Homo sapiens: one gene and its partners. The protein of the gene in region 4 purifies or fractionates together with the protein of the main gene of each other region. This does not show direct contact. Each region holds a gene or a part of one and is shown on either strand. Other genes may lie near its edges.

Region 1 (7,315 bases), on a different chromosome or scaffold from region 4:
AAAAAACTGTCCTTTTTAATGTAGTAGAATCTTTTCAGATGTTTTGCTATTAATAATACAACCTACTAGTTAAAAGTCAACAGAACCAAAGAACTAATAAACTGCCGCAAGAACTTAAATGCACCACAGCCAAAAGAGTTTCTCAGCTACACACCTTAGCTAAACTGGACTGCACTTTCAAACTGTAGAAAAACGAAATGAAAAGTGAATCTCAGAACAAAAATCACCCAAGCAATAACTTAGCTCACCTTATTTAAAAATTCTCAAAGCACACGTGAACTGCATACTTTCACTGAGAAGAGATATATATTTAGGAAGAGTATTAGTTATAAATAACCCAATCAGGTCACAGGAAGGATACAGAAAGACCTCAACAGACACCCTAATGGATATTTCTAATATTATTCATTCCCCATTCTTAGCACCAAAGTCAGCAGCACCACCTACCACATCAACTTCCACATCACTTTCTGAGCCTGACCCTGTCTGAGTCCCTTAGGGAGGCAACTAGTGGCCTGGATCATGCAGCCCAACGTATAAAGGCTACTAAGGTATTTAGATAATCATTGCTTTGCGTGAATTCTTTTTTTTTTTTTCCAATATGAACAAAACACCTCACTGGTGTCAGATTTAGGATTATACCCCACCCCGCCCCCACAAAAAAAGAAAAAAAAAAAAAAAAAAAAAAAAAACGGGGCCACTGACTGTGGCTATTCGTGCACCATGGCACTAACATTTTATAAAGTGAGAGACTGTATGAAAAATAACATGACTTAATTAGAGATATTAGCAATGAAGTTTTAAAGTGCTTCAAAGTTACATGATTGTAGCAAGAGGAGTAAAGGAAAGGGGTCAGAGAGGGGTAAAAAAAAAGCATTACAACATACAACTACCTGAAAAAGTAATAGTACACAGACAGGTTAAAACACGTTTACAGTTACTAACAGTTGCCAACACATAGTTACCACACTATATACTTGTCAGATTTCCCAACATGCAAAACAAAAAGGAGCCACCCCTGTATGAAGCACTTATCTACTGACTTCTACAGAGAACACATAACTTTTCTGGAAAGCGAGAAATTAAACTTACTGTGCTCTCCTTTTGGCTTTCAAAAATCTTTAAAACTTTCAGCAAATTAAGGTTCTCCTCAATTTCAAGGCTTTTCATGTTAAGTTGAATAAAAGTTGCCTATTTTTAATATCGATAAACTACGAGATCACTTTTATATTTGCAAACCATATCCACATCCCTACTAGATTTTTAAAAGTTTTTCGAAGGGCTAAATATAAAGTTTGCACAAAGTGATACAGTAGATGTGGCAGGCATTCAACAAGTTCACTTATCAGGAGAATTCCTAAAGTGAAAGCTTGAAAAAAAAATTGTGAAGATAAATTCCGAGTAGTGCTACTGAAGATACAATGTTACTAACATGAAAACTGAGAAATATTCAAAACATTCTGAAAACAGCATCTCCCTCTAAAAATAAAGAGGGGAAGCATTTGCCAACACAGAAACATCGGTTCTTAAAAATTATAATCACATGGGAGACATTTCTATAAACAATTTAGTTCTGAATTGCAATAACCCTAACCTTTCAAAGCACGTTTTGGCCTTGCCTTACCAAAAGCAAGAGCATTCCTGGTGCCTTTATATTTATACAAAGGACTGTGCTACTTTGTTTCTAGCGCAAACTGTTGGTTTACACAGTTAAAGATCTTCAAAACAAACTACCACACACAATTCACTTCCAATCATCCAAAGAGAAACGAACAAACAAGCATCTGTCACAAAGTCCCAAGAGTTTTCTAATTTACAATAACAGATATTTTTACGTTGTAGTTCAGAGGCTACCTCTGTTCGTTTCTGTATTTGGATTCACATACTATACATTTACTTAGCTTGTTAAGAGAGAAACCTCAGAAAATAAGCAACCGGCGATGACACCAGTCTATTTTAAGTTACTTATGAAGCCTACAGCTCAAGAACTTTTGGGAGAAGGGAGGGTAAGCCGTTTTTCCAAGGAGTTAAGAACAATTCGTGTTTGATAATTAATGATAGCAGCCCTAACAACCTCTTAGAATACATTATGGTGGGGCGGAAGTGAAAACGATGAGAGGGGGAAAAAAATAAAAAAAACCCGACTTGAAAATGGACAAGCAGACAGATTTACAAACCTTCAATTAAAGGAATTTTAAGATGAACTTCTCTCAAACGCCCTCCCTCACTCCCCACACCCGCTTCCTCCTCTCCTCCGGGAGGTCGGTGTAATGTGACTCATGACAAATTTTTTTTAAATAAATAAATAAATAAAAGACACACCCTCTGGGGGCTGAAACTGACATAATCGCCCCCACCCCACCCTCCGCCGACACACAACACACACCCCGCTGGTCCTCTCCCTTCTGCGGCTTCAGCCTCGTCCCTGCCCTCTCCTCTCCCCTCTCCCGTCCTGGACCTCCTCTCCCGGCGCAGAGAGGCGGCGCGGCGGCAGCTCGGGGGTATTCCGGGACTCCAGCCCTGCGGACTGGAGGCTACCTGGGGGGCGCGCGACCCCGGTGGCCGGGCCCTGGGGGAAGCGGACGCGAGGGGGGCGCCGGGCTGCGGCAGCGGCGGGCTCCCGGCTCCCTCGCCCATTTTCTCTCTCCCCTTCTATCGGTTTCCACCACCACAGCCACTTCCTGTATCGCAGCCCGACTCCCTCAGCCCGGCCACTCGCTCTGTCCCCGGTTGGGGCTGGGGTTGGGGCTGCGGTAGGGGCTCGGGTTGGTGGCAGCCGCTGAGGTCAGGGCAGTTCCCCACCCCGCCCAGTGGGCTGGTCACTCCGGCGGGTCCTCGACCCGGCCAGCGCCCGCCGGCCGCCAGAGCGCCTCACCTGTATGTAGTTGTTTTCACAGTAGTCTGCCACCCGAGTCAGGTTCTGGTAACTCTCGATCAGCGCCCTCTTGCCAGACGGGATCTCCTCCTCTAGTAACATCTGCAGCTCTGCCATTTTCCACCCCTCTGCATCGCTTCCTCTCGCGTTAAAGAGACAGAGGCAGCAAGGTCCGCCGAGGCTCCGAGCACCTCACAGCCCGGATACAAACCGCCTACCCGCCCTCCCGCCTGGTATTGTGGGACGGCACCTCCTCCCCTTCCTCCTCACTCTCTCCAGCCCCCCTCCACCCCCTTCGTGCAGCCGCCTGAACCTCGTTCTCTCGCGAGCGTTTATTTCTCCCACCCCCACGGACCGCGGGATTTTTTTTTTCTTTCGCACTGTCTTCTGGGAATTGTAGTCTCTCCTAGGCTAGGCGGCCCGTCCAAAGCGCATGCGCCCAGACACCTCCGAAAACCAACGCGGCAGAGCGCAGAAAGCGGAGACCGAGGGTGGAGGGAGGGGGCGGTGTTGGGGGGAAGTCCGGAGTTTCCTCACAGCTCCGGAAGGTGGCGCCACAGGGTGATACTGGGGGAATGAAATCGGTTCCCCAAGTTTCATGTGAAACTTGGCAGAACTTGGTTAATTAGGAAATGTCAGTGAATCAAGGACACCCATTCAGAGAAGGATTAAAAAGGGGACAGAGTACGGAAAACTAGATTTTTACTTCCTCTGCCTTCTTAGAAATAAAGCGAGTCAGGCTTTACTTTCTGAAGTTCCGCCCCCATCAATTCATTTAAAATTTAGCAAACATTTCTTGATTGCCAGCTGTTTACCAAGCAGCGTACTAGACACTGGGGGTACAAGTTGAGTACGAATACTCCGTACCCTTAAAGACTCAATTATAAAATAAACATACATAGCTTGTAGTGCTTTCCTGTCCTAATTTCTCTTTTCTCTGACTCTCCTTATCATGTAATCTTCCTACACTTTTAAGGTCATGTGCACGTTTTTTTAGGGGTGGGAGTTGTTTGCTTGTTTGAGACAGGATCTCACTGTTACCCAGCCTGGAGTACAGGGGCACAATCATGGGTCTCTGCAGCCTAGACCTCCTAAAGTCAAGCGATCCTCCTGCCTCAGCCTCCAGAGTAACTGGGACTACAAGCGTCGGTCACTACACCTGGCTGAGCTTTTTAATTTTTTATAGCGACAGGGATCAAATTATGTTGCCCTCGCTCGTCTCGAACCCCTGGCCTCAAGCAATCCTTCTGCCTCAACCTCCCAAACTGCTAGGATTACAATCATGAGCCACCCACCCTGATCCTTCGTTTTTTGCTCCTGGATTTTTGTTTTGTTTTGTTTTTATCACCTGCTTTGGAATAGTCTCAAAAGGCCCTATATTTCAAGCTCTTCACTTCAACAGGAACATTAAATGCTTCGGATATAATCAGCTATGAAAAGTGTTGTCCAAAGACTTTGGACATATGTTCATGTATCTCCATAAAGTCATTTAGAATCAAAATAACTAGGAGTAAAAACATCACTCAACCAAATTAAAAATTGCCAGCACCAGGTATTTATTGAATATTGCCTTTACTGGGGCCTTATTCAGGGCCCCAGGGAACCAGTTTCCCTCTTCGACCTCTGAAAGGAAAAACTCAGTTTCCTACTAAAAACGTTAACTTCCCCTTGCCACCAGATTCTCCATCAAGGAATCTATCAAAAGATAACTATTATACCTATTCCAGATATTATGGAAAGTAATACATTTATTATCTGGAATAGGTGTAATAGTTATCTTTTGATATTTATCGTTAACCCAAACACGACTTAATCCAAGTTATTAAAATTTAATGTATTATTGATCTTGGTCTCTACTTGAGGTTTAACTGTAGAAATCACTCAGTTTGTATATATTCAAATATTGACACATTTCAACAACATTGGGGAAGTGATTAGGGAGGTGATACTAATTTACTATTTTCAACGTACTGTCCATGCAGTTGAGCAATGAATGAATAATAATGATGATGATGATAAATACAAATAAAAAGTACTGTCAGATTTCTTCTCACAACTCTGAGAGACAGATAATATAAATATTATTTTCCTTCCTTATCAAATAAGGAAATTTAAGCTTAGATAGGTTAAGGAGTTTAGCTAAGGGCACTGAAAATGCCGTCAAGTTTCCTAGGTTACTGATTGATATGGTTTGGATCTGCATCCCTGCCAAATCTCATGTTGAATTGTAATCCCTAATGTTGGAGTTGGGACCTGGGGGAAGCGGGAGTGGATCATGGAGCAGATTTCTCACGAATGGTTATGCAGCATCCTGTTGGAACTCTCCTTATGATCTCGAGTGAGTTCTCCTGAGATCTGGTCATTTAAAAGTGTATGACAGCCCAGTGCAGTGGCTTGTGCCTGTAATCCCAGCACTTTGGGAGACCAAGGTGGGAGAATCCACTTGACTCCCAAAATGGGAGACCAACATGACGAACTACTCCCGCTTGAGTTCCAGACCACCCCGAGCAACATGGCAAAAACCCGTCTCTACAAAAAACACGAAAAATTAGCCAGGTGTGGTAGTGAGCACCTGTAGACTCAGCTACTTGGGAGGCTGAAGTAGGAGGATTGCTTGAGCCTGGAAGGCACAGATTGCAGTGAGCCAAGATCACAGCACTGCACTCTAGCCTGGGTGACAGAAGGAAACCATGTCTAAAAAATGAAATAAATGTATATGACACCTCCCCGCCTGCCTCCTGCTCCCCTCCTGCCACATGAGACATTTCTCTTCCCCTTTGCCTTCCTGCCATTTTGGAAGCTTCCTGAAGCCTCCCAGAAGCAGAAGCAGCTATGCTTCTGGTACAGCCTTCAGAGCCAGGAACCAATTAAACCTCTTTTCTTTATGAATTACCCAGTCTCAGATAGTTCTTTATAGCAGTGCTAGAATGGACTAATACAGTGATCTTTCCAAAATCCAGTGGACAGTGCAAACTTGTACAAATATTTGTGGCTCATGTAAAGTTCACTAAAAGAACTTATCCCTCATGCCTTAAAGGTGAGGAGGAACAGGAGCAGGAGGAACAGGAGTAGGAGGAAGGAGAGGAGAAAGGGGTGGAAGAGGAGGGGGAGGAGGAGGAGGAGGAAGAAAAAGGAGAAGGAGGAGAAGGGAGAAGAAGGAGGAGGAGGAGAAAAGAAAAAGGAGGAGGGAGAGAGGGAGCGGGGGGAGGAGGAGGAGGAGAAAAAGAAAGAAGGAAGACGAGGAAAACCAAAACCTGGGAGAAAATATCTGCAAAACAAATATCTTGATAAAGGAGTTGTACCCTAATATATAAACAACTCTTACAGTTCAGTAATAAGATGACAAACCAGTTTTTTAAAACAAGCCAAAAGGCTGGGCACAGTGGCTCACACCTGTAATCCCAGCATTTTGGGAGGCTGAACCAGGAGGATCACTTGAGCCTACGAGTTTGAGACTAGTCTGAGCAACAGGCTCTCTCTACAACATGTATGTTTTTTTCAAGTAGCTAGGCACGGACTGGGCACAGTGGCTCATATCTGTAATCCCAGCACTTTGGGAGGTCAATGTGGGCCGACCACTTGAGGCCAGAAGTTCGACACCAGCCTGGCCAACACGGGGAAACCCTATCTCTACTAAAAATAAAATACAAAAATTAGCCGGGCGTGGTACTTAGGCAGCTGAGGCAGGAGAATTGCTTGAACCCAAGAGGCAGAGGTTGCAGTGAGCTGAGATCATGCCACTGCAGTCCAGCCTGGGGGACAGAGGGAGATTCTTATCTCAAAAAAAGAAAGCAAACAAACAAAAAAAAACGGCACGGTGGCTCACACCTGTAATCCCAGCACTTCGGGAGGCTGAGGCGGGCAGATCACCTGAGGTTGGGAGTTCATGACCAGCCTGACCAACATGGAGAAACCCTGTCTCTACTAAAAACACAAAATTAGCTGGGTGTGGTGGCACGCACCTGTAGTCCCAGCTACTTGGGAGGCTGAGGCAGGAGAATTGCTTGAACACACAAGGTGGAGGTTGTGGTGAGCCAAGATTGAGCCGTTGCACTCCAGCCTGGGAAACGAGAGCAAAACTCTGTCTCAGAAAAAAATAAAACTAAAAAATAAAATAAAAAAATAACCTACTGTATGATTCCTCTTCTAAGAAATTTTAGAAAAGGCAAAATTACAGTGATAGAAATCAGATCAGACTTTGCCAAAGGCTGGAGTAGTGGTGGGGTGACACCAAAGGGATGCAAGTGAACTTTTAGAGGTAAAGGAAATGTTCAATATCATCACTGTACTGGGGGCTACATAACTACATACATTTGTCAAATCACATTGAATTGCACACTTAAAATCTATGCCTTTTGCCGGGCGTGGTGGCTCATGCCGGTAATCCCAGCACTTTGGGAGGCCCAGGCATGTGGGTCACATGAAGTCATGAGTTCAAGA
Region 2 (3,010 bases), on a different chromosome or scaffold from region 4:
AAATCTGGTTTCAATATAACTCATTTAAAAATTTATGCCACAGTCCTTATAATTGGAAAAATACTGGTGCCCAGGTTTTCTTGGAGTTATCCAAGCAGCTGCGCCCCTAGCTGGGATCTGGTACCTGGACTAGGCTAATTACAGCTTCTCCCCAACAGGAAACTGTGGGATTTGAAAAGGAAAGGGAAGGGAAAACAGAGAACCTAGTGGTCTACCAAGTGGTTGGCAACTTTCCCAATGTCTGCTTACTCTGAGGCTTGGCACTGGGGGCCAGGGCCTGCCCCAGGGCTCCTGGAATTTCCCTTGATCCAGCTAGGCTGGGACACTCCCTAAATCAGCTGCGTGTTGTTAGCATCAGGCAGAATGAATGGCAGAGAGTGATTCTGTCTTCATAGAGGGTGGGGTACTTCTCCATAAGGCATCTCAGTCAAATCCCCATCACTGTCATAAATTCAAATAAAATGTCTGAACAAGGGTGTCTGGATGTGAGCTGGACCATCTCAGGAGAGAACACAAGTGTGAGGCAGCTGCTGGCCCCTCACCTAGTCTGGGGTTCCTTTACCCTGTAATGGGGGGTGGGGGGTAGAAGATGGACAAGACACCTTAACAGTCCCTTTGGCAGTACTAGGCAGAAGAGGCCCATACTTGGGTCCAATGTGTGCAGCAGGCAAAACATTTTCCCTTCTAAATGTGGGCCCAGACCACTGCCCTGTCCCCCCCACATTAAGAAGCAGTAGCCACAGCCAAGTTTCAATCATTTAATTAACATCTTTAAATGAAACACAGTTTTCTTCATGTGTCTCACTCAGGCTTCAGGGCAGAGGGAATGGATTTTTAGACATATCAAAGACTCAAAAATTTAAAGAAATATATATATGTATATATATACTTCTAACATTTTATGGAAATTAAAAATCAGAGGCTTTTGGTCTCTCCATTTACTCTAGGTCAAGCTCATTTACCCCAGAGGACAAAGAAGGGCTGCCTCTTCTAGACCCTCCCTTCTCCTTTGTCCTCTGTCCCACCCAGCAGGGAAACAAGCTCAGAAGATCCTAACAGGATAGAGTTCCAGTAATGTTGGAGGAGGGAGAGGGAAAGAGAAGTCAGGTTCTCTCCCACCTCCAGCCATTCCCAGGTTGCTGCCAGGGCCTGGTTTCATGCAGCTTTGACCCAGTCCTGGATCCTAGGGGGTGGGGTAGATCAGGAGCTCTGAGCAGAACAGTGCTCACTGATTATCCTCTTTCCCCAACTCAGTGGGCAGGTGCAGCGTACACCCAGCAGCACTCTCCACTGCCCACAGGCAAGGGAAGAATATTGATTGATTAGCTACAAGGAGAAGACAGTAGTGACTAGTGGAAAACACCCTGGAGAGGGCCAGAGGAACCTGGCTCTCACCACATCCCCTCTGTTCCCAGCCTTGGTGAGGGGGCGGGGAGGTCATGTCAACCTCTCTCCTTGGTGGTGAAGCTAAAAGCAAGGTTCCTTGCCAGACTCAAGCCCAAGTCACTGTTAAGGAAAGAGGATCAAGAAAGAAGCGGTGGCCCTGGGGGGCAGCCACGCTGCTGTGGACCCACAGGGGCCAATGGGGAAGCCAGCTTGCCTAGACAGGTGGCACAGGCTGAAAATAGAAAGGTTAACATTCCCGGAGAGTACAGTAAGAGAGGCTGATACCTAGGGGACCACCACCCAGCCTGCCCTAGAAGCACTGGGTGCCCCTCATTGACTAGAGAAGACTTGAGTAAAATGCACCTGTGGCTTCCCATCCTTGTCACTCAGCGTTAGCTGCCCCCAGTGGAACCACCTGTGCTGAAAGGCAGCTGCAGAAAGGACATGCACCGAAATGAGGAGAGAGAAAGGTCAGAGAATGAAGTGTGGAGGGCCAGGCCTGGGCCCACTGCTCAAGGAAGCTCCCCCCCTCCAGATGCTCCCTTCCATCCACCTCCTCAGTGCTTGCTCAGCCCAAAGGCTCCTGCCTCTGAAGTGCTGGGGGCCCACCCACCCCAGTGTGGTCAAGGAGGCAAGGGGCAGGTGCTTGACACTGCCAAGTGCCCCGAGATGACTCTACTGCTCACCCATTTCTTTGGGCCCTGGCAGTCTCCTACTTGTCCCCAGCATGGAGCACCTGGCAGAACTGGAAGGCAGGAGGGTGGTTGGTGAGTTGAGGCACAGGAAGGCCAATCCCCTCTGCACCTTTTGTGCTTTGGAATTCCACAGCCCCACACCTGCCCCCAGCCTAGAGAAGCCTGTGGGAACACAATGACTTGGCCACCTTCAGGAACCAAGAGGAGTAAACTGGACTGGGCAGGAGGGCACAGACTGGTCCCAAGCTATGGGCTGACTGCCGGGGATGGATTCTGCTGCCATGTAAACAGGCCCTTGGAATGCAACTTCCTGGGCCCTGGAGGATGGCCATGCAGCCACTTTTCAAAAGTGCTTTGATTCTGGACTATAGTATGTGCATGGTTTGGACATGAAAAAAAATGAAACTCAGGTGAGGTGTCCTGCTCCCAACTCTGCAGCCTCAGGGCCAGCAGGGGGCGCAGCCACCCTCTCCCGCCAGCTACCCACTTCAAGATGAGGCTAAGGCCAAGACTGAAGCGGCAACTGCCAGAGGTGAACCCATTCGGGAAAAGGCATGAGCGCAGGATGACTCTGAGGACAGGAGCAACACCAGGCTTGCATAAGTATCGAAGGCCGTGGAGGTTAAGGCTGCAGGCGCCCTCTCTATTAGGTTGTGTCTGCTGTATCCTCTCGTCCTTGGAGCTGCTCGGGTCCCTGAGATTGTGTTTCTGGGATGGGTCAGCAGTGCCAGTGAGGTGCCTGGTGGTCAGGCCAGCTCTTTCTGTGAGTCTGGGGGAGAAAAATAAGAGACACTTAGCAAGGGGCCTCCTGGCTTGGTTCTGGCACTAGGAGCCCAACAAAGCATACCCTCACCCAACCTTCTTACCGCTTTGATTTACTGACAGTGCCCGCAGCACTGGGCTGGACACCCTACACATGTTCAGACACT
Region 3 (6,310 bases), on a different chromosome or scaffold from region 4:
GGCGTGGGGGGAGGCACCTGTAATCCCAGCTACTCGGGAGTCTGAGGCAGGAGAATCGCTTGAACCCGAGAGGCAGAGATTGCAGTGAGCCGAGATCACACCATTGCACTCCCAGCCTGGGCAACAAGAGCAAAACTCCATCTTAAAAAAAAAACAAAAACTCAAAAACAATCTTCAAAGCAATAAAAAGGAATATTAAGAAAACGAATTCTAACATGAACCTTTATGTAGTACAAGTTCAGGCTCTTGCATTTTTTTTTTGGGTAGGTCTCTTTCTTGTCCAGGCTGGTCTAGAACTCCTGGGCTTAAGCGCTCCTCCTGTGTCAGCCTCCCAAAGCGTCGGGCTTAGAGGCGTAAGCCACGCACTCAGCCTCTGGAAAGGATCTTAAGGGCATGTGGTTCACCAACCTCTACTCTTCCAGGGCCAGTCTAGGGTCCCAACATCTCCATCTTCAGCCCCTAGCTCTGGGCCAGGATGTGCACACACACCCCGATAGGCGCTTCTCCCTCAGAGCTTCGCCACTGTTCGACAGGTCCAAACATGAATGTCACCTCCACTCCTGCCGTATTTGGGCTCACCCAGTTCTCCCCTGGAGGTGGCACTCCCTGTCCCTCCTGTGTGGAGACACGCATTGAAAATGACTGTCTCCAACAACCCAGGACTTTAAAGCAAGGCAAACAAACACACACCAGGAACTTGTTCATCAAGTCTCAAAAACACCAGTATTACCAGTCGTATGATTCAAGGATTTATTAAGTCATACATGCAAAACATAATGCTAATTGCATTAGCAAAAGATCAATGTAAAAACACTCCACAATTCTGCAACTGTCAATTTAAAAAATTCTGTTGTAGTGGCTGAAGGGTCCCACGCTGTATTCTCGCCAGTGAGTTAAGTTGTACAGAACATCGTCAGCACTAGCACAGTTTACAGAACCTCACAGACCCAAAGGAACATCAATAGGCAAAGCGACTACAGGAGGCGTGTGTCCGCGTGGGCGAGGTAAAGAGGGTCAGTATTGGTCAAGTGACAGTGTCGGTAATCTGGCAAGACAGTGATGTTAAGAAGGTTCATAGTTTAAGAATTATCTAAAATATTTTAAAAACTATAAAGCTGCAACACATGATTTTTACACCTAGTTACTAGAAAACTAAGGAAAGCACTTATTAGCTCTGAATAAAGTAACATGGAAAGCACTTTTACTAATCGACAAAAAAACCTTCTAATGCATTATCAGAAAGATTTTATAATACAAGGAGGCATATTGCTCAGTCAGAAGGGGTTCTATAAGAAAAGCACTTACTAAGTTAGCGACTAACAGAACAACCAGTTTAAAGATGAATTAAATGCCCAATTTGGGGAGGCATGGCAGGTGTAAGAGAAAGGAAAAGCTTAAGAAAACATTTCCTGATAATACCAACCTTTCTTTCATCATCTACTGCATTTGACAGAAATTAACCTTTTAGAGTTTTTACCCGTGACACTTTCATTCCTTGTACAATGTAGTGTAAATCTCCACTTCGTATTTTGTCAAAATACTGTCTTTGTCCTTTGATCACACACACCCCACCCGGCACACCCACAGCTAAACAGAATTCTTCATTAGAGGAAATAGCAGTTCTGTTCAAAATCTCCGCAAAAGCTGGTCAGAAAACTCGCTATGAAATCACAAAGACTGATCCAAAGAGCTGAGCTGCTACGCTCACTCCATTACAGTACAATGTTATGTCGGGAACACGTGCTGCTAACTCACTGGTGAGTTCAATGGCAACGCTTCATTCGGGAGGCTGTTCTGCTTTACGCATCTGAGAACTACATAGGAGAGCAAGTGTCTGCACCTCCTAACTGCAGAAGCTACCGTCTTCTCAAAGACGAAGGTCTTTGCAAAGTTCAGTGCTCGGTGTTCTCGGCACAACAATGCAGTGTAGTTCAGAAGGTATTTTGGCAACTCTTAATCTGAACAAGAATGGGGGGGGCGCTTTTGAAAAATAAGGCTTTAAGAAGGCTTGTCATTTTAGGGCTAAATTTTAATAGAATGTGAGTCTGAACTCTTACATTTAGAACAAACAAAACCTTAAAATTACTGATTGGTTCAAAAAATGGTTTTATGGAAAAATTAATCTGTAACAAAAAGTTGGCATTGAGTGCGAAGGCTCCACCGTTGTTTTTTTTTTTTGTTTTTTTTTTTTGTTTTTTTTTGAGCAAAGCGTACAAAGGTTCCAAGGGACAGGACCAAGAACGAGGGGCTGAGACATTTACAACAGCAGGCATTTTCTCTTCCTCTTCTTCACGGGAGGCGGGCAGAGGACTGCTCGGATCGCTTCGTCAAACACTGTCTTGAGGCCTCGCTGTGTGAGCGCCGAGCACTCCAGGTATTTTACAGCACCTACAGGAAACACGACCACACGGCAATGTACACTCGACCCCACTCTCTTCTGATCACACCACCAGCGGGAGGCAGCTCCTGGGGCCCGGGCGCCTTCTGCCGGCTCCCAGCCCTGCTTCCACCTTCCAACGCTGACGTTAAGACCCACAGGGCCTTGCCAGCTGGTTCCCCAAGAGTACACCAGGCCCTGAGTGGGAGACACACACCCTCCTTTCCCAGACTGGACTCCAGTCTCTGTCACTACAATAAAAGAGGTACAAGGAGGAGGAAAAACACAGGATTCCATACCAATCTCCTTAGCCATGGCTAGACCCTGCGGATAGGTGATGGGAGTCAGCTTCTTCTCCTTCAGTTTCTCGATCGTGTCTTTATCATCCCTAAGATCAAGTTTAGTTCCCACTAGGATGATGGGAGTGTTGGGACAGTGGTGCCGCACCTCAGGATACCACTAGATGTGAAGAAGGAACAGAGGTTGTGACACGCTCCTTTACAGATGTCCTTCACCTAAATCACACCCAGCCGGCGGCACTCATGCCAGACACCTAACCTCAGGCAAGGCCTCCCCACGGAGGCTTCAGGTGGTTCCCACCTTCAATTCAAGCCTTGAGCCATAAGGAACATCTCAGGTGTTCCATTAGCAAGCTAGGACTCCCGGATCATGGCTGGACAGAACCACGACCGGACAGAACGGGCTCTACAACCGCAGGGGAAGGGGGGAAGGGAAGAGAAACAAAAGGAAGGGAGTTCCTCCCAAAGCAAATAGATCACTTTGTTTTTGGTAAAACAATTTCTTAGGGTCATCTGAGAAAATTCATCATCTGTTCAGAAATGAGAATAAACTACCTAGCCCAAGGTCTCAGGTCTGCCGCTATTATCTCCACTGAAAATGCCCCTACTGAAGGGCCTCACTTGTCATTTTCACTAAGAAGTTTGTGAAAGAGACTGGAGTAGAAAGAAATGGTCGTTATTTTTATTAGACCAATTCTGAGTGCCTCATTATTTTAATGAGACCCAGGAAACTTCTGAACCAGAACCTGAAGCTTTAAAAATCCACGTATTAGGCCGGGCATAGTGGCTCACACCTGAAATCCCAGCACTCTGGGAGTCTGCGGCGGGTGGATCACTTGAGGCCAGGGGTTCGAGACCAGCCTGGCAAACATGGTGAAACCCCGTCTCTACTAAAAGTACAAAAATTAGCCAGGTGTGTTGGCGGGCACCTGTAATCCCAGCTACTAAGGAGGCTGAGGCAGGAGAATTGCTTGAACCGGGAGGGGGAGGTTGCAGTGACCCAAGATTGTGCCACTGCACTCCAGCTTGGATGACAGTGCAAGATTCTGTCTCAGCCGGGCACGGTGGCCCACGCCTGTAATCCCAGCACTTTGGGAGGCCGAGACGCGCGGATCACCTGAGGTCGGGAGTTCGAGACCAGCCTGACTGACGTGGAGAAACCACATTTCTACTAAAAATACAAAATTAGCCGGGCGTGGTGGTGCATGCCTGTAATCCCAGTTACTCGGGAGGCTGAGGCATGAGAATCACTTGAACCCAGGAGGCGGAAGTTGCAGTGAGCCAAGATTGCGTCACTGCACTCCAGCCTGGGCAACAAGAGTGAAACTCCATCTCAAAAACAAAAACAAAAACAAAAAAAAAGACTCTCTCAAAAATAAATAAATAAAATAAACTGCTGATGGGCCAGATGCAGTGGCTCACAGCTATAATCCCACCACTTTGGGAGGCTGAAGCTGAAAGATCACTTCAACCCAGGAGTTTGAGACAAGCCAGGGTCTACAAAACCAGCCATACAAAAATTCTTTTAAGATTAGCCACGCATGGTGGTGCACATTTATGGTCCCAGCAACTCAGGAGGCTGGGGCAGGAGAACTGTTTGAGCCCAGGAGTTCAAGGCTACAGTGAGCTCTGATGTCACCACTACAACTCCAGCCTGGACACAACAGAGTGAGACCTCCGTCTCAAAAGAAAAAAAAAAACCCAATCATGTACTTAAGTAGCAAATTGCTAAAACCAATTTAAATAACTAAAAATTCCTAGGCTAAGTGATATTTTAAAGTATTTATTTCTGAGAGGATCATTCTATAACTTACATACACATTTTAAATCCCCACCTACCTTTGCACGGACATTTTCAAATGATGCAGGACTCACAAGGGAAAAGCAAATTAAGAACACATCCTACAAAAAGGAAACACAGGGAAACATTTAGACAACAACCTTAGAATGAAGCATGCACTTTGCTTTCTACATGTTGCTGGGAAGGACTTGTTGGACGCAGAGCGTGTCTACCAGTGGTGTGGTCAGACGCTTCCTGATCCACCCTTTCAGTTTGTCAGAGGGCTCCCAAACCAAACCCAGCATGTCAAGCCACCAGTTACTTATGAAAATGGGGAGCATGAAGGGAGAATGATGCTGGAAGCTCTTCAAGGATCAGGAGGATCAGACCAGACCCTCAGGAGGCTTCCTTTACGCCTAACTATCTAAAATGAAAAAATCAAGTATAAAGGTATGATTCCAATATTTCTGTAAAATCTGGTTTAGAGTACAAACAGTTTTAGATGGTCACTGGTTCCAATTAAACTGCTTCTTCAGGAGCTGCCTGTCACAGCTCCCAGCACCAAGCGGGGGCTCCAATATTTGCTACTTGAGCCCTTCCCTCCACAAGGAAGGAGGACTTAGTGTGTAAGTGGCACCTTCACAGCTGACAACCACCCTCACGCTGCCCTAGAGTCAGCACAGCCAGGGCCTCAGGAGAACTCGCTCCCGGGGCAGCTGTGGCTGACGCAGAGGCGCAAAGGGTGGGTGCAGAGGACAGAGTAGAGGGTGCTTCGGGGCACACGCCAAACATCTGCATGCTTCATCCATTCTGTATTTTGTGTCAAACCAAATTCAAATATTCACCTGTATTTAAAAATGCCCAAGAATTCTAAAATGCTAGATTTCTAAAATATTCTCCTGGAAAAAGGCAATTATGCTACTTTATGAAATGCACACAATTCCCAAGCTACACTTTCAACCCTCCAGCTGATACCTTGTACCTGAAAGGGAAAGAAACATCCCACACAACAGCTTTTTATAACTGGCATTTGAAGAATGCTGGCGCATGCACAAGCTCGTCCAAGAATCACCGCGGCACCCAGCACACCATCTCAAGCACGGTGGGGTTAGCTCAGCAGCACTGCACAGCCACGCCCAGACAGCCCCACCACACGGGACACCCAAGCGGAGAAAGAAGGCCCCGGCAACAAGGTTAGTCCTGCTCCGGCTCGGCTCACAGCCAGGTGGGCTTCCGGGAGGAGTCTCCATATCTGCATCTCCAACCAGCCAGGAGAGGGGCCCTCTCACTGTCCCCTCCTTTCACTTGGGAGGAGAAGATCACAGTTCACAAACTGCTTTAATTCAAGCCGGTGGGTAAACTATCACACTCTAATGAAGTTTATTTCATCAAGCAAAACCCCAACCTTGAGTGAATTAAATATAAAACACTCAAGGAGCTTGAGGCTTAATAAAAAATCCTAGGAAAACGAAGTGAAATGAGAGAACAGAGAAAGCTTGAAACTGAAGTGGACTGAAAGTTTTACATACGGCAATCGGCTTGTCTTTGCCCCGGGAGGTTATATCCTTACCGTACGTTTCTCCAACCTAGTAATGCATGAGAACTTGGTTTGAGTTTAGTACAGACTGAGGACAACAAAAATCAATATAACCTCTTATCGATTCTTTATTAGAATTTTGTCTTAACCCTCCGGAGAGATCCAAAAGCATACAATAGATTCTAACATATCTTCGATGACAAATGCCACTGAAACACTCCACGCTACCTGGTCAAAAGCAGGCGTTAAGTTCAACGATGGTGAAGACAGAGGTCAGGGAGATCCTGAGGGGGGGCAACAACGTGCTCCTCCTCCCA
Region 4 (7,369 bases):
GGTTTAGATAACACAAAATAGCATCTGCTTTAGCTAGCAGGCAGGGTAAACCCTTCCCACAAAGCTTATAATGAATCTTGAAGAACAGATAGGAGTTAGGTGTACCAAGGAAGAGAGGAACATTTTGGTAAGGAGCAATGGAATCTTGTACAGATATTGGTAACGTAGATTAAGCTAGTATTTTGTTGCTACAGAGCACATCCTAAACATTTCTCTCCTAAATGTTTTGGAGAGGTTATTATATTCACATGAAATTTCTGTTATTGTCATTTTCCACTTTCTAATAAAATTCACTTGTATCTGCTTTATATTTCATGTTAATGATAACTGAAAACACAGAAGGATGAAGCAAAGTTAGATTTAGGTTGAATTATGAAGGAGGCAAATTCTGTCTTTATCATCTCTCTGGTTCTCCTGTAGCTATCTCTGCTTTCCCTAATCCCTGTATAATGCCATTGTATTGTCTTCTTTGCTAGATGGTAACCCAGTGTTCTAGCTAACATTTGCAAATTGGTGACTGGCAAGCCAGATTATGCCTGTAGGGAGTGTTTTGTTTGCCAAACACAGAGGTTTTTAAATTTTGGAACTAGAGTGCCTGAGATGGACATGTCTGTCTAGCTCACCTCATGCCCCATCTTACACCCGACTGGCTTCATTCATGTATGTTATCCGCTTGGCCGCTTTGGGCGTTTGAATTTGTTACACTTACTCTAGCCCTTTCTGTACTTTCTCCCCCAGTTTTGAATCACTTTTTGTTTTATTGTTTAAAGACAATGTTTTCTGTTGAGTGATATAGTTATTATCGGTTAATTAGATAATTGGATTTTTTTCTAATGTGTTGGCTAGCTAATCAGTTACTTCCCAGATAACATAACCTTAGTAAATTGTTACGTTTTGATTAGGGGCAGACAATGCCATTCATCGTAGAAATTTCAAACTAATGCCTGTGGAGCAAGGGTTCATGAGTCTTTTTTCATCTGAAAGACTTTCTGACCTCAAATTGTATTCTTTAGGCATACTGTTTTGTGTCTGGTGCATCAGTTCAAATTAGGGGTTAAACAAAACATGGCAGGAAACTGGGATTACAGCAGACTGGCTAAGATTTAACTGAATGTACAAGTAAACCATTTCTGTGTTACTTTTACTATATTATGATGACATTGTCTTTTTCAGTGTTGATGTTAGAGTTTAATTTGATTGTTATAACCTCCTTTTTAAAAATTAGCGCTTAAGCATTTGACTTTGTTTCAATACATCTGTTATAGCAGAAAAATCTAGATCGTCCTCATGAACCAGAAAAAGTGCCAAGAGCACCTCATGACAGGCGGCGAGAATGGCAGAAGCTGGCCCAAGGTCCAGAGCTGGCTGAAGATGATGCTAATCTCTTACATAAGCATATTGAAGTTGCTAATGGCCCAGCCTCTCATTTTGAAACAAGGTTTCTTTACTTTTGTTTTTTTTTTTAAATGATAAAACATTGGCTTTATTTGTAGTATCTGTACTTCTAAGTCTTGAGTCCTAAACTGTTGAACAGGCAGACCCTGTTATAAATATAGAGATTATTTCAAAATCCTGACCACTGTGAGCCTACTAAAGTCAGGCCTTGAGCAGGTCATTTTCATACCTGGACCTTAGTTTTGTCATCTTAGAAAGAAGTGGTTGGAGTGGCTGATCTTTAGGGTTTTAGCTTTAGTGTGACGTCTCAATAGCCTCTCGATATTTCAGGCACAGTCTGCTAGAATTTTGTAATAAAAGTTTAGGGTCTGGGGTTTTTTTGAAATACTGTTGATTTATTGCATATAAAATAGGAGTGAAGAAGGGGTTCTGTTTTGTTCCTTTTACTTTCCCCTGACTTCCTTTCTTTGCCACATTGCCCACCTCAGATATATTAGGACTTTCAAACAAAAGTATTGATCCCTTTTGTAGAAAAGATTTTTTCCTTTCTTAGTGGCCAGGGGCCCTAACTAAATAACATACTACCAGCAAACACATTAAACTGGCATCTGTCTACGAAGACACTTATTTGGGTATAGTCATACGTTTGTTTGTTTGTTTTGAGACAGAATCTTGCTCTATCGCCCAGGGTGGAGTGCAGTGGTGTGCTCTCAGCTCACTGCAACCTCTGCCTCCTGGGTTCAAGCGATTCTCCCACCTCAGCCTCCCAAGTAGCTGGGATTACAGGCACACGCCACCACGCCCAGCTAATTTTTGTATTTTTAGTAGAGATGGGGTCTCACCATGTTGGCCGGGCTGATCTTGAACTCATGACCTCAAGTGATCTGCCTGTCTCAGCCTCCCAAAGTGCTGGGATTGCATGTGTGAGCCACTGTGCCCAGCCTAGTCATATGATTTTTTAATGGAAAAGAGCTTAAGGTTTTCTTTTAAGTAATATACATATAAATGATTGGGCCATAAGTGTGCAACATCTTGACCTATTTTAGGAGAAATATACATCTGAGAGATACTATTTATCTGTATTACTGAAAGAATTGACATTAAAAAATTAATAAACTTTAGACATTTATTTCTACTACAGTTGAGTAATTAAGGTACTTATCTGACTCACTAAATACAATAATTTCTGACTTGCTGTGTGCACATCTGTTAAATCCAACTTTTTCCCAAGAATGTACTAGCAAATATTTATAAATCTTAACATGTTCGAGTTATCTAAAATTTTGCTTACATCTAAGTCACATGTTGCTATGTTACTCAGCTATTTTCTGAGTACCCTTGCACCTTTGAAAACAGCAGAAGGACAGAAACAATATAGCTAGCCACCTCTGTGCTGCTAGTATCTGGGAGGCCTTTCTCTCTGGTGCAAGACTTTTAGAAGTCATTTAAGTTTAAGAGCACACCGAGATATACTAGTAGTAGAAAACTCATTTTCCTATTCTACCTTTCTGTCATTGGCATCTTCTTGTAAAGAACTAAATAGAGGCAGATAGCTTTCCACACAATTTGCTAAAAGTTAATTATTTTCTTGTTTATTAAATTACGTACGTAATGCTTTTCATCCTGTGAGTTGAATTAGTATTCTGTTATAAAATAATAAAATAACCGATGGTCATCATAGTAGATCTCTAAATCAACAAGTAAGGGTTATATTGTGAGCAGCATTCTTTGTTTTAAAAGCAGGATTAATATAATACATTTCTGAAAGTTTCTTAAAAATAGTTAAAATATTGGCATTGAAAGGATAAACTTTAAATATTTAATATCTCATGTAGAACCCTTTCCTCCCAATAATTCAAGAATAATTCACTGATACTATATATTTCTTTTAGACCTCAGACATACGTGGATCATATGGATGGATCTTACTCACTTTCTGCCTTGCCATTTAGTCAGATGAGTGAGCTTCTGACTAGAGCTGAGGAAAGGGTATTAGTCAGACCACATGAACCACCTCCACCTCCACCAATGCATGGAGCAGGAGATGCAAAACCGATACCCACCTGTATCAGGTATGTTGGAACAAGCATATGATGTTTTATCTTAGGAGTCAGTAAGCTTTTTCTTTCAAGGACGATATAGTAAGTATTTTTGGCTTTCGGGCCTTACAGTTTTTGTCACAAGTACTCAATTCTGCCATTGTTGCATGAAAGCCACCATAGAATATACATAAACAAATGAATGTGTCTGTGTTGAAATAAACTCTATTTATAAAAACAGGGAGCAGGTCAGATTTGGTCTGTGGGACATTATTTGTAATCTTCTGGTTAGAGCTGACACACTCTCCTAGGAAAATTTAGCTAATAAGAATTTAAAGATTAAAGCCTGTTTCATTTTATTATAGTGTTGTTATCAAGCATATCATGTGCAGTGTATTAAGAAAAATTAAGGATTTTTTGGAATGTGGGTAACAGTCTAAGAAATGGGAACCAAAGATGTGATTATTAATACTAATTTGGTATTAAGGAAAATACTTAAAGAATTTCAGAGAGGATTGGCAGTTGCTTATAATAATCTTTCAGTAAAGCTATTTTGAAGTTTAATCTTGTCAGTTATTATCCAAATGATAAATTTCTAATAGAGAAATATTAGGGAAATTTTCTAATAGAGATATAGAGATCAGCTTTACAATTTTCAGTTAAAAATCCAATTTTCTATCACTGACTCATTTGGTGTTCCATCCTCAGGAAAAGAGAGAGCTGTAAATTTCTTTTTGTGGTTTGTAATTAGCTGTCATTGATTTAACTGAAATAGCATATGATGAGACTTCATAGTTTCAGTATAAATATAGCATTGTATTGGCCACATGTATTGCCACAAAATTGCATTATGATCAATGTTGAGTCATTATAGAGACTCCTGTCAGTATAGAATTGAGCATTTTATTTATTAAAGTAAGCATAAAATATCTGAGTGGATGCCAAAGTTGCATGAGAGAATGAGACTATTTAGACTATTACAAACCAAAGCACCACTCATTAATTTTTTTATTGATGTGCTTTTAGTTCTTTTTTTTTTTCTAAATACTGTTGAAGATGTTAAATTTCTATAGGAGCATGTTATTGGATCCATTTTGATATAATTACTGATAGTCATTTATAGTTTGTGTGGTTAGATTTTCTCTTTAGGCTTTTCTCTTTTAATAACTTGCTAGAATCTCTTTGTCATTTCAGTTCTGCTACAGGTTTGATAGAAAATCGCCCTCAGTCACCAGCTACAGGCAGAACACCTGTGTTTGTGAGCCCCACTCCCCCACCTCCTCCACCACCTCTTCCATCTGCCTTGTCAACTTCCTCATTAAGAGCTTCAATGACTTCAACTCCTCCCCCTCCAGTACCTCCCCCACCTCCACCTCCAGCCACTGCTTTGCAAGCTCCAGCAGTACCACCACCTCCAGCTCCTCTTCAGATTGCCCCTGGAGTTCTTCACCCAGCTCCTCCTCCAATTGCACCTCCTCTAGTACAGCCCTCTCCACCAGTAGCTAGAGCTGCCCCAGTATGTGAGACTGTACCAGTTCATCCACTCCCACAAGGTGAAGTTCAGGGGCTGCCTCCACCCCCACCACCGCCTCCTCTGCCTCCACCTGGCATTCGACCATCATCACCTGTCACAGTTACAGCTCTTGCTCATCCTCCCTCTGGGCTACATCCAACTCCATCTACTGCCCCAGGTCCCCATGTTCCATTAATGCCTCCATCTCCTCCATCACAAGTTATACCTGCTTCTGAGCCAAAGCGCCATCCATCAACCCTACCTGTAATCAGTGATGCCAGGAGTGTGCTACTGGAAGCAATACGAAAAGGTAATTTTCTCAGCTCCATGAAAAGCATTGCTATAGTAGCATTGGAAACTTTCTAAATATTTAAGACAAAAATGTGTTCCTTATCTATAAAATTTTAGGTGATCATGTTTGTGTACAAATGGCCTTTAGAAAGTAAAGCTATATCCAACTTATATTTAAAATTATTTTCCAGAAAATATATCACATTTGACCATTTTATTTTCATGCTTTGTAGGTATCCTTAAAATGTTTATTGAGTGAATGAGAAATTTAATATATCAGACTTAAATGTTATAGAACATTTAATTAAAACCCTTTATATTATGCTTAATGTGTATATTAACTCCTTTAAAAATGGTATTTTCTTCAATGTTAAGGCTGTTCATTTTGGGTATCCATGACACTTGCTCTACCAGATGCCTTTAGAGGAGTGAGTTTCCTCCCTTAGTAACAAAGGAAAGACTTCTCATATTCATTCATTTATTGTCATTATTTCCTAAGCAATGACTATAGGCCAGGCACTGAGCATATAGAATGAATAATAGTGCCTTTCCCTCAAATACAATGGATAATGAAGCCACAGAAAATATATTCAACAATGTTTAATTTATTTGACCATTGAGGTGATAGAAGAAATGTACCACCTCATTAATTTTTTAGGGGGTGGTGAGCAGGGAGGTATAGTAGACCATGATGGATAAATAAACTGTAGATACCTACTGGGATATCTGGTAAGTTTTACCAACTAATAACACAGATAACATAAAGATTTAATGCCTCTCTCAGTATGATTTCTTCACATTCTTTTCTGATCTTTTTATTTTCCTATAAGTATTTCTCATGTGTATTTGATTTTATTCCAGAAATATTAATAATATCTAGTATCTAGTATTTTGATTTAAATGAATGGTTTGGATTCACTGTATCAGGTATTCAGCTACGCAAAGTAGAAGAGCAGCGTGAACAGGAAGCTAAGCATGAACGCATTGAAAACGATGTTGCCACCATCCTGTCTCGCCGTATTGCTGTTGAATATAGTGATTCGGAAGATGATTCAGAATTTGATGAAGTAGATTGGTTGGAGTAAGAAAAATGCATTGATAAATATTACAAAACTGAATGCAAATGTCCTTTGTGGTGCTTGTTCCTTGAAAATGTTTGGTCATTCTAGTGTTTTGCTTTCTTTTCCTTATAATAAATGACCCTTTTCCTCCATAACTTTTGATTTCTAAGGAAAATATTAGCATACATTTCAAACTAAATGTTTTACAGTGGCTTATCTTTTTTTTCCCCCTGAAAAGACTAATTTGGTCAAATAAACCACTAAGTATTAAGCATGGACAGCTGTTGTTAGAGTAGCAGATTCAGTTTTTTGATATATCTTAATTGTGTACTTTGTGAATTTTAATTTAAAGAAAGCAACTGAAATTGAAATCTTGAGGGCAGCTGTGTCTACTAATGAGCCTTATTCCATTTCCTGATGTTTTAAAAGAAGAAACACTGCCTTGATTATACGAATACACTCAGAAAGTACATTTAGCTTGTAGTGTTGAATTCTCTTAAAGGAATGCTTGAATTTTTTCATTATTGTTTTATTGTTTTTATATACTTGCCTTATTTGAATGTTTAGCAGTATCCCCTTCCCACTTATATATTGTGTGATATGATTTTGCTTGCCTATAGGAGTTAAAAACTTTTCCATGTGAAATACTCTGACTTAAACATACATGTAACTTACATAACTGTTAAGAATAACAGTCTGATTTAATAAATGGTTCATTTTAAAAGTTCATCAGTGTTGCTCTTTGAATAAAATGATTTATCATAATTTATCAAATACTGTATGGTAGGCTTTAAATAGTGAATGAAAATTTGAAAAACACTTAGGCTACATAATTTCCTCTTAATTGCACAGCTTCATATTGTCTACTGTGTAAGGTAGCTTTTATGTCATTTTCCCCCTAAGTTCATAAACTCTGTATTTCTCAACTGCTTGTGGTTTTAAATTAAAACCTCAACTTGTCATCTAATTTCAGCATACCTTAATTTCAGTTTAACAGTGTTCTTGAAATTATGTTTTGCAGCCAGGCATGGTGGCTCATGCCTGTAATCCTAACACTTTGGGAGGCTGAG

What was found.
Region 1: the proteins of WASF1 (region 4) and ABI1 purify together in Homo sapiens (affinity purification with mass spectrometry; 6 studies listed by BioGRID and IntAct, with this or other methods). This does not show direct contact.
Region 2: the proteins of WASF1 (region 4) and NHSL3 purify together in Homo sapiens (affinity purification with mass spectrometry; 3 studies listed by BioGRID and IntAct, with this or other methods). This does not show direct contact.
Region 3: the proteins of WASF1 (region 4) and RAC1 purify together in Homo sapiens (affinity purification with western blotting; 3 studies listed by BioGRID and IntAct, with this or other methods). This does not show direct contact.

The regions. Positions count from the first base shown.
Region 1 is NC_000010.11:26,857,872-26,865,186, forward strand, and holds the start of ABI1 (abl interactor 1), read right to left. Parts: upstream 3,088-7,315; 5' UTR 2,993-3,087; coding exon 2,876-2,992; intron 1-2,875. UniProt on the Homo sapiens protein: May act in negative regulation of cell growth and transformation by interacting with nonreceptor tyrosine kinases ABL1 and/or ABL2. May play a role in regulation of EGF-induced Erk pathway activation. Involved in cytoskeletal reorganization and EGFR signaling.
Region 2 is NC_000001.11:32,772,705-32,775,714, reverse strand, and holds the end of NHSL3 (NHS-like protein 3), read right to left. Parts: intron 2,851-3,010; coding exon 2,828-2,850; 3' UTR 745-2,827; downstream 1-744. UniProt on the Homo sapiens protein: Able to directly activate the TNF-NFkappaB signaling pathway.
Region 3 is NC_000007.14:6,398,394-6,404,703, reverse strand, and holds the end of RAC1 (ras-related C3 botulinum toxin substrate 1), read right to left. Parts: intron 6,043-6,310; coding exon of another isoform or gene 5,986-6,042; intron 4,579-5,985; coding exon 4,516-4,578; intron 2,837-4,515; coding exon 2,677-2,836; intron 2,389-2,676; coding exon 2,258-2,388; 3' UTR 737-2,257; downstream 1-736. UniProt on the Homo sapiens protein: Plasma membrane-associated small GTPase which cycles between active GTP-bound and inactive GDP-bound states.
Region 4 is NC_000006.12:110,099,476-110,106,844, reverse strand, and holds the end of WASF1 (actin-binding protein WASF1), read left to right. Parts: intron 1-1,265; coding exon 1,266-1,438; intron 1,439-3,287; coding exon 3,288-3,467; intron 3,468-4,628; coding exon 4,629-5,257; intron 5,258-6,165; coding exon 6,166-6,323; 3' UTR 6,324-7,026; downstream 7,027-7,369.